2 linked regions of the Homo sapiens genome follow. The protein of the gene in region 1 interacts with the protein of each later gene in a pairwise test. Each region holds a gene or a part of one and is shown in the gene's direction. Other genes may lie near its edges.

Region 1 (3,896 bases):
CTTGCTTATTTCACTTGATGTTATGTTTCTGAGTTACTAATATTGGGTATAGATGTAAGTCATTAATTTTCACTGCTGTGTAATATTCCAAGTGTGAATATAACACAGTGTATGCATTCTTCTGTTAATGGGCATTTTGGTTGTTTCTAGGTTTTGCTGTTATGAAGTTATATACTTTTTGGTTCACAGTTGTAAGAATTTTTCTAATTTTCACACTGGGGTATATGAGCCCCAGAGGAGTAATGAAGATTTGCTAAGGAATGTGTGGGTACAAATGATGTTAATGAATCAGTTTCTAGATCATTACATTCCATAGGTACTCTTTCCTAAAAATGGTAATGCCTGAGGCCTCCTGCTAGTGCTACTTTCTTACCTTGTGTTTCTAACATTGCACTTTACATAAGACAGGCAAACCACAGGTTCTTGTGGAATCTTACTATGGCATTGCCCAAAGGGGGAAAACTCCCTTGGGGAAAACAAAGGGATTTTTTTTTTTTTTTTTTTTTTTTTTGAGTGAAGTTTTGCTCTTTTTGCCCAGGCTGGAGTGCAATGGCACGATCTCGGCTCACTGCAACCTCTGCCTCCCAAGTTCAAGTGATTCTCTTGCCTCAGCCTCTGAGTAGCTGGGATTACAGGCGCGCACCACCACACCCGGCTAATTTTGTATTTTTAGTAGAGACGGGATTTCACCATGTTGGCTAGGCACGTCTTGAACTCCTGACCTCAGGTGATCTGCCCGACTCGGCCTCCCAAAGTGCTGGGATTACAGGCCACCGCGCCTGGCCTACAAAGGGATAATTTAAAATACCACTATAGTGTTAGGGAAAGCCTCTTTTAATCCTGGCACTTCCCCATCCATTTCCTTAAGAGAGATATTTCCAATAAAGTTGCTTTTTTTTTTATGTTATCAGGGTATATTTTTTGGCCAACCATATGCTGGTAATAATTATACATTTAAAAGAATGAGATAATCAGTTTTACTTTAAAATGTTACTGTGATGTTCTAGAAATTCACCCTTTGCAATTATTTAATCTTATGGTGATATTTTTTAAATGTCATCTTAATGGGTAAAGGGTATGCAATTTTAAAAAGCACTTTTGGTGGTTTGCGAGCAAAAAAAAAAGGTTGAAATACCACCATGTTAATTTGTTCAGCAGCAAAAGAAAAAGAAAAGAGAAAGAAATACTGCCGTATCACTATAGTAAGCTGTTTGCTAGAAATGGGATTGCTAGATCAAGGGGTATGAATGATCAGCTTTACAAAATAATGTCAGATTACTTTCTGAAGGGGTTGTATCAGTTTGTACTTTGGCCAGCAGTTTTGTCTGTTTATATACTTTGATCAACAGTGTGTAAGAGTTACAGTTGATCTACAACCTCTCCAACACTTGTTATTGTCAGACTTAATATTTGCCAATGGAATGGGTATGAAATGATGCATCATTGTGGTTTTAATTTGCATTTTTTGTTATTAATGAGATTGAGCATCTTTTGTATGTTTATGAACTGTCTTTGTTTCCTTTTTATGAAATATCTAGTCATATATTTTACCCTTTGTTCTGATGAGTTGTCTTTTAAAACTGGTAACATCGATTATGTGCGTTGTAAATATCTTTTTCTGGTTTGTGGCCTGTCTTTCTACTGTTTATGGTGTATTTTGGTGAACAGAAGTTCTTAATTTTAACATAATCTGATTGGAACCTTTCTTGCCCTGGGCTTATAAAGACATTCCTCTGTTTCTTTTTAGAGGTTTTAAAATGATGTCTTCCACATTTAAGTTCATAATTTATCTGGAATTGATTTTTGTGTATGTTCTGAGATAGTGATCCACATTGATTTTTTTTTTCTCCTGTGTGGTTCTAATTATCCCTGTACCATGTATTGAATTGGCCCTCTGTTCACCAGTGGTCTGCTGTGCCATCTCTTTTACATGTTTAGTTACTACCTGCATGGGTCTGTTTTTGGCTTGCCTTTCTGTGTCACTTGTCACCTTGTCTGTCTCTGTGTTCATACCACACTGTCTTAATCATTAATACTATAGTTTTACCTGAAATCTCGGTATCTGGGGAGGACTTGAATCTCACCTATTTTTGGTCATTTGTTCTTAAGAATTAGCTTGTTACATGACATGAAAAACCCTGTAGGTATTAATTAGAATTAATTGAATCAGTTTGGGGGAGAATCGAAATCTTTAAGATTTTGATCCTTTTTATTTTTAAGAATATGGTATGTATCTCTATTTATGTAAAGTTTTAGTGTAGTTTTGTAATATTCTCCATAGAGGTCTTCCACTTTTTCATATGTTAATTCTGATGTTATTGTTTTTGTTGCTATTATAAATGGTGGTGTTCTTAAAGATTCTATCTTAACTTATTTATTGTTAGTAAATATTTTAACTTATTGTTAAATAGAAATTTAATGAATTTTTAAAAATATTGACCCTTTAGTCATCCACTTGATAAACTTACTACTTCTAATATTTTTTCTGAAATTCCTTTGTGTTTTCTGTGTGGATAATTATATCATTTGCAAATAGTGACAGTTTTAGTTCTTCTAGTTATTTTTGCTTTTAATTTATTCATTTTTTTGGTCTTAAATGTGCTGGCATACTTTATACTTACGTTCAATGGAAGTGATTAGGGTTGTTCATTAGAAGCGATTATAGTGGGCATAGAGTTCTTGTTCTCAATTTTAAAGAGAATATTTCTCAGCTGAGAATAACATTTGCTGTGAATTTTTGTAGATACCTTTGATTAAGTTAGGGAAGTCTTTTCAGTTGTCACATGCTTTTCTGCATTTGTTGAGAATATCTTGTGTCTTTTCTTCTTTAATCTGTTAAATGTAATGAATTCCGTTTTATAGATTTAAAACTGTTCATTTTCTTTTATATTCTTTCTTGAGATAAACCCAAATTGGTCTTTATAGATTATATTTTTATGAACTACTAGATTGAGTTTGCTCATATTTTATTTAGATTTTTGTGTCTGTTTATGGCTAGAATCACTTCTCATTTTTCTTTATTGGCTGTCTTATCTGACTTGGGTATTAAAGTTACACTGACTTTATACCATGAGTTAGAGAATAGTTCCTCTTTTTCTGTTCCCTGGGAGAGTTTGGATTGGAGTGATTTGTTTCTTAAAAGCTTGGTGGAACTTAACTATAAGGTCATTTGGATCTAATGTTTTCTTCTTGGAGGTTTAGTAGTAATTAGCAGTTGAACAGTCATAGGACTGTTCAGGTATTCTATTTCTTTTAGTCAGTTTTGGTAAGTTTTAGAAATTTGTCCTTTCATCAAGTTTATGGTATGGTTTTTTTTTTTTTTTTTTTTTTTTTTTTTTTTTTAAGATAGAGTCTCCCTCTGTTGCCCAGGCTGGAGTAGTGCAGTGGTGCCATCTCATTGCAACCTCTGCCTCCTGAGTTCAAGCGATTCTCCTGCCTCAGCCTCCTGAGTAGCTGGGATTACAGCCGTGCGCCACCATGCTTGGCTGATTTTTTTGTATTTTTAGTAGAGACGGAGTTTCACCATGTTGGCCAGGCTCTTCACAAACTCCTGACCTCAAGTGGTCTGCCCACCTCGGCCTCCCAAAGTGCTAGGATTACAGGTGTGAGCCACCGCTCGTGGTATGGCATTAATTCTCTTTTTAATCTCTGTTTTATTTGTATATGTGTTCCCCTTTTCTCATGTTGAATATTATTTATGTCTGACTTCTCTTTCTTGATCAGTCTTAGTAAAAGTTTGTCCATTTTTAAAATCTTGGCAAAGGATTAACTTTTGGCCTAATTTGTTCTATTATTTGTTTTTTATTTCATTGATCTTTTTTCTCTTTTATTATTTCATTTTACTTTCAGTTTATTATTTTACTATTTTTTTCACTTAAATTACACACTTAATATTA
Region 2 (3,896 bases), on another chromosome or scaffold:
AAAAAAGGGGGTCATAGAGATGTTTTTGTGAGAAGGAGTTGGTCAGTGTATTCTGATTTATTAGGGTTTTTTTTAGTTTATCTCAGATTTGATCTATTTAAATTGTTTTAGAAGATGCTGGTGTTTTTCTGTGCTAGCTATGAAATTTATGGGTAAACTTTAAGCCTTTCCTAGTCCTTTTGTTGTCTACCTAAATTCAATTAATTTCATATGGAAGGATGTAGTAAGTGAGTAATATAAATATCTAAAATTGGATGTTTGAAAACAAAACATACCTGTTTTTTGTAATAGCTTGATTTAATGCTGAGTTCTCAAAATCATTATTAAGATTTTGAACTTTCACATTCAATGTGGAAAGAATTGAGTGTAATTACAAAAGATTTATTTGAAAAAGTTGAGTTGTTAATTTGTGAAATATGTTCCATTAAACTCATAATATTTTAGAAAAATAGTAGGAAGTAATAAAGCTTGTTTATTTTTTATATCATATATTCATATAAAATGTCAGTTTTCCTTTAAAAATTACATTTTTTTTTTGGTTAATTTTTAGGCACTTAGTCGGGCACTTTTAGAACTCCGGGCAGAAATGACAGCAGCTGCTGAAGAACGTATTATTTCTGCAACTTCTCAAAAAGAGGCCCATCTCAATGTTCAACAAATCGTTGATCGACATACTAGAGAGCTAAAGGTGAACATCAACACGTGTTAATGTAACAAAATTTCTGATAATTCCTATTGGAAGAGAATTCACTATGATATATAGTAATTTTGTTGATGAATAGGGAATTTATAATGCACTGTTGGTGGCTAGACATAGACACACACATGCATTTTTCAACAATAAGTCTCTTTATGATACTCATTTACTGATTATCATCTTGGGGATTAGGAAAGGATAGGCCATTATGAACTACTGTTTCTAATGAAATTAAATTTAAGAAATATTTTACTTAGGATTTTTTTTAAGACTTTATTATTTTTTTAGAGCAATTTTAGGTTCACAGCAAAATTGAGAGGAAGGTACAGAGATTTCCTGTATATCTCCTACCCTGAAAGTGGTACATTTGTTAAAATTGATGAACCTATATTGATACATCATAATCACCCAAAGTCCAAGTTTACCTCTATTTTAGCTCTTGGTATTTTACACTCTGTGTGTTTAGACAAATGTATAATGATATGTATCCATCATTATAGTATTATACAGGGTATTTTCACTGCCCTAAAAATCTTCTGTGCCTCTCTTCTTCATTCCTTCCTCTGCACCTCACCAAACCCCTGGCAACCAGTGATCTTTTTACTGTCTCCATAGTTTCACCTTTTCCAGAATATGTTATAGATGGAAACATACAGTGTGTCCCCATCATTCTCACCATAGGACAGCTAGGAACTCCTTTCTAGTGGCATACATATTGTCTAGTATTGTAAGTTACCCTTTTATATCTTATCTTTGTAAACTAGGTTAGAAATTACTTCAAGTCAGAGATTTGTTCTGTACTACTCTTATGCTTCATAGTGTTTAAAACGTTGTCATATATATTGTTATATACTTGTTTGTTTAATTAATTCAGCCAAAATGAAACGTGCATATTTGATAAAATTTTGTTTGTGGGTGTTTGTTGAAGATGAATTGCTTTACACTAGTTTTTTTTTTTTTTCTCAAAGTCGACTTTTTTCCTCAAGGTAGACTTGACATGAATATGGAAAAATATATGTAGTTTGTGGTTATTTTTTTTCTCTTGTGTACTTAAAAATTCAGACTGAATTTTTCTTATAATGGTATATTTTCTGTTTTATGTTCCTTTTATCATTGATACTTCTTGAAGAGTCATGAATAATACCTTTCTTTTTCTCTTATTAGACACAAGTTGAAGATTTAAATGAAAATCTTTTAAAATTGAAAGAAGCACTTAAAACAAGTAAAAACAGAGAAAACTCACTAACTGATAATTTGAATGACTTAAATAATGAACTGCAAAAGAAACAAAAAGCCTATAATAAAATACTTAGAGAGAAAGAGGAAATTGATCAAGAGAATGATGAACTGAAAAGGCAAATTAAAAGACTAACCAGTGGATTACAGGTAATTTTATATTTAACTCTGATAATGTCTGATTTACAATATAGAGGTAGTAGTTTATTTCTACTTTATCATTTTATCTATGGTATTTGTTAAAACTGACTTTCAAATCACTTTGATTAATGTAATTAATTTCTTTTGTGACTTCTATTGTGTTTATAGTTCTAGAGTAGCATATTAGTATGTTGTATTAAAATGCAGAAGCAGCTACCAGATTATCTTATGTATTAAGTGTCATTTAGAAAGTATGGTCAGTGATAGCTTCAGAAAGTTGCTATTATATAATTGAAATATTTACTGTCTATTTTGTTTTACATTTATTTGTAAAAATATAAAGTTACATTTTATTTTTTAGGGCAAACCCCTGACAGATAATAAACAAAGTCTAATTGAAGAACTCCAAAGGAAAGTTAAAAAACTAGAGAACCAATTAGAGGGAAAGGTGGAGGAAGTAGACCTAAAACCTATGAAAGAAAAGGTATGTGAAGAAACATACTGACTTATATGCTTAAGGTAGTGACAGAGTAAGTTAAATACATAGCTGATTAACAGTTAATATACTGCCTTAATTTGATGACCTGGCTGTATTAATTCTGTATTAATTTTGAGGACTATAAGCAGTATTGAATAACGTAGAAAAGTCTAAGTTTCTGTTCTGTAGGAATTTAGAGTCTACTTGAGGAGATACCTATAATGTAACTCTTATTTGGAAATTACTACATCAATTTCATTCATCTTTCTGACATTAGAGTACCTCTGAAGTTCCTTCACACCTTAACATATTCAACTGTGTATCATTTCTCTCCAAAGTAATCATTTACACAGGTTGGTGCTTTTGACTTTTGGGACAGAAAGATAGACATTTTAAGATACCCCACTTTGACCCAAATAGGTCCTTTTTAATCCTTCAGGAGACTAGGCTGTTATTTCAGATAGCAAAGTTATTTGGAATATCTTCAGTATTTGCAGTAATAATCAGTAACCAATCTGCTCATAGATTAATTCTGTGGGAGAAATTGCTTAAAATTTTATAGTTCATAGTAAACTGTTTTGTAATAAAAATTACTGATTGAAATAACCCCAAAAAAAACTAAAATTGGCTAAAATGCGTGTAATTAAATTTGTTATGGACAATAAATTGGAGATAACTTGTTGGTAACATTCAAAATATCGAAAGTGAACTGGGAAATGTTGATGTTAGCAGTAATATTTGCCATTGAAGAAAATCAGTATGGAGGAGCTATGGTTAGGAAAATTTTTATTATAAAATTTACCCAGAAAATATTTAATGTCTATAAAATAATTTCAATCACATGAAAATGGAAAAGAAAATTCTGTCTTTAAAGGCATTGAATAGAAAATAGGTAATGGAATTCAAATTTCTTAATAGAGTATGCTCCCAAAATTATTTTCTATGAAAATTCATTAATGTCAGTGTAATTTATTGACACTATTTGCGTGGAGTCACAACATGCTTGCTGTCAGAAGCTTTGCTGGTGAAAACTGTAAGATCAAAGTGTCCTTAATCTTTTGGATTTCCATCTTTCTAACTCCCTAATTGGGGATAGGCCTGATCTTATCCCTAAATGGGGATAGGTTAGAAACTGGTATGTTTGTTCCTAACTGGTGTGTTTCTATACCAGTTTCTAACCTGATTCCTATCAGAATGTTTTAAGAGCCTTGTGGCTTTGCCTGGACTCTTCTATGCTACAGTTTATTTAGTTTATTTATTCAGTTTATTCCTCCTTAAAGTGGGAATAATACTATCTGTATTGCCAGTTTCTCAGGATTATTTTACATAAAATGATATGATATG

Evidence for each region. Proteins that work in one complex are often made in the same cells at the same time.
Region 2: the proteins of TTC3 (region 1) and CEP290 interact in a two-hybrid assay, tested with the Homo sapiens proteins (one large-scale study listed by BioGRID and IntAct).

The regions. Positions count from the first base shown.
Region 1 is NC_000021.9:37,076,210-37,080,105, forward strand, and holds part of TTC3 (E3 ubiquitin-protein ligase TTC3), read left to right. Parts: intron 1-3,896. UniProt on the Homo sapiens protein: E3 ubiquitin-protein ligase which catalyzes the formation of 'Lys-48'-polyubiquitin chains. Mediates the ubiquitination and subsequent degradation of phosphorylated Akt (AKT1, AKT2 and AKT3) in the nucleus.
Region 2 is NC_000012.12:88,075,884-88,079,779, reverse strand, and holds part of CEP290 (centrosomal protein of 290 kDa), read left to right. Parts: intron 1-550; coding exon 551-688; intron 689-1,861; coding exon 1,862-2,083; intron 2,084-2,435; coding exon 2,436-2,558; intron 2,559-3,896. UniProt on the Homo sapiens protein: Involved in early and late steps in cilia formation. Its association with CCP110 is required for inhibition of primary cilia formation by CCP110.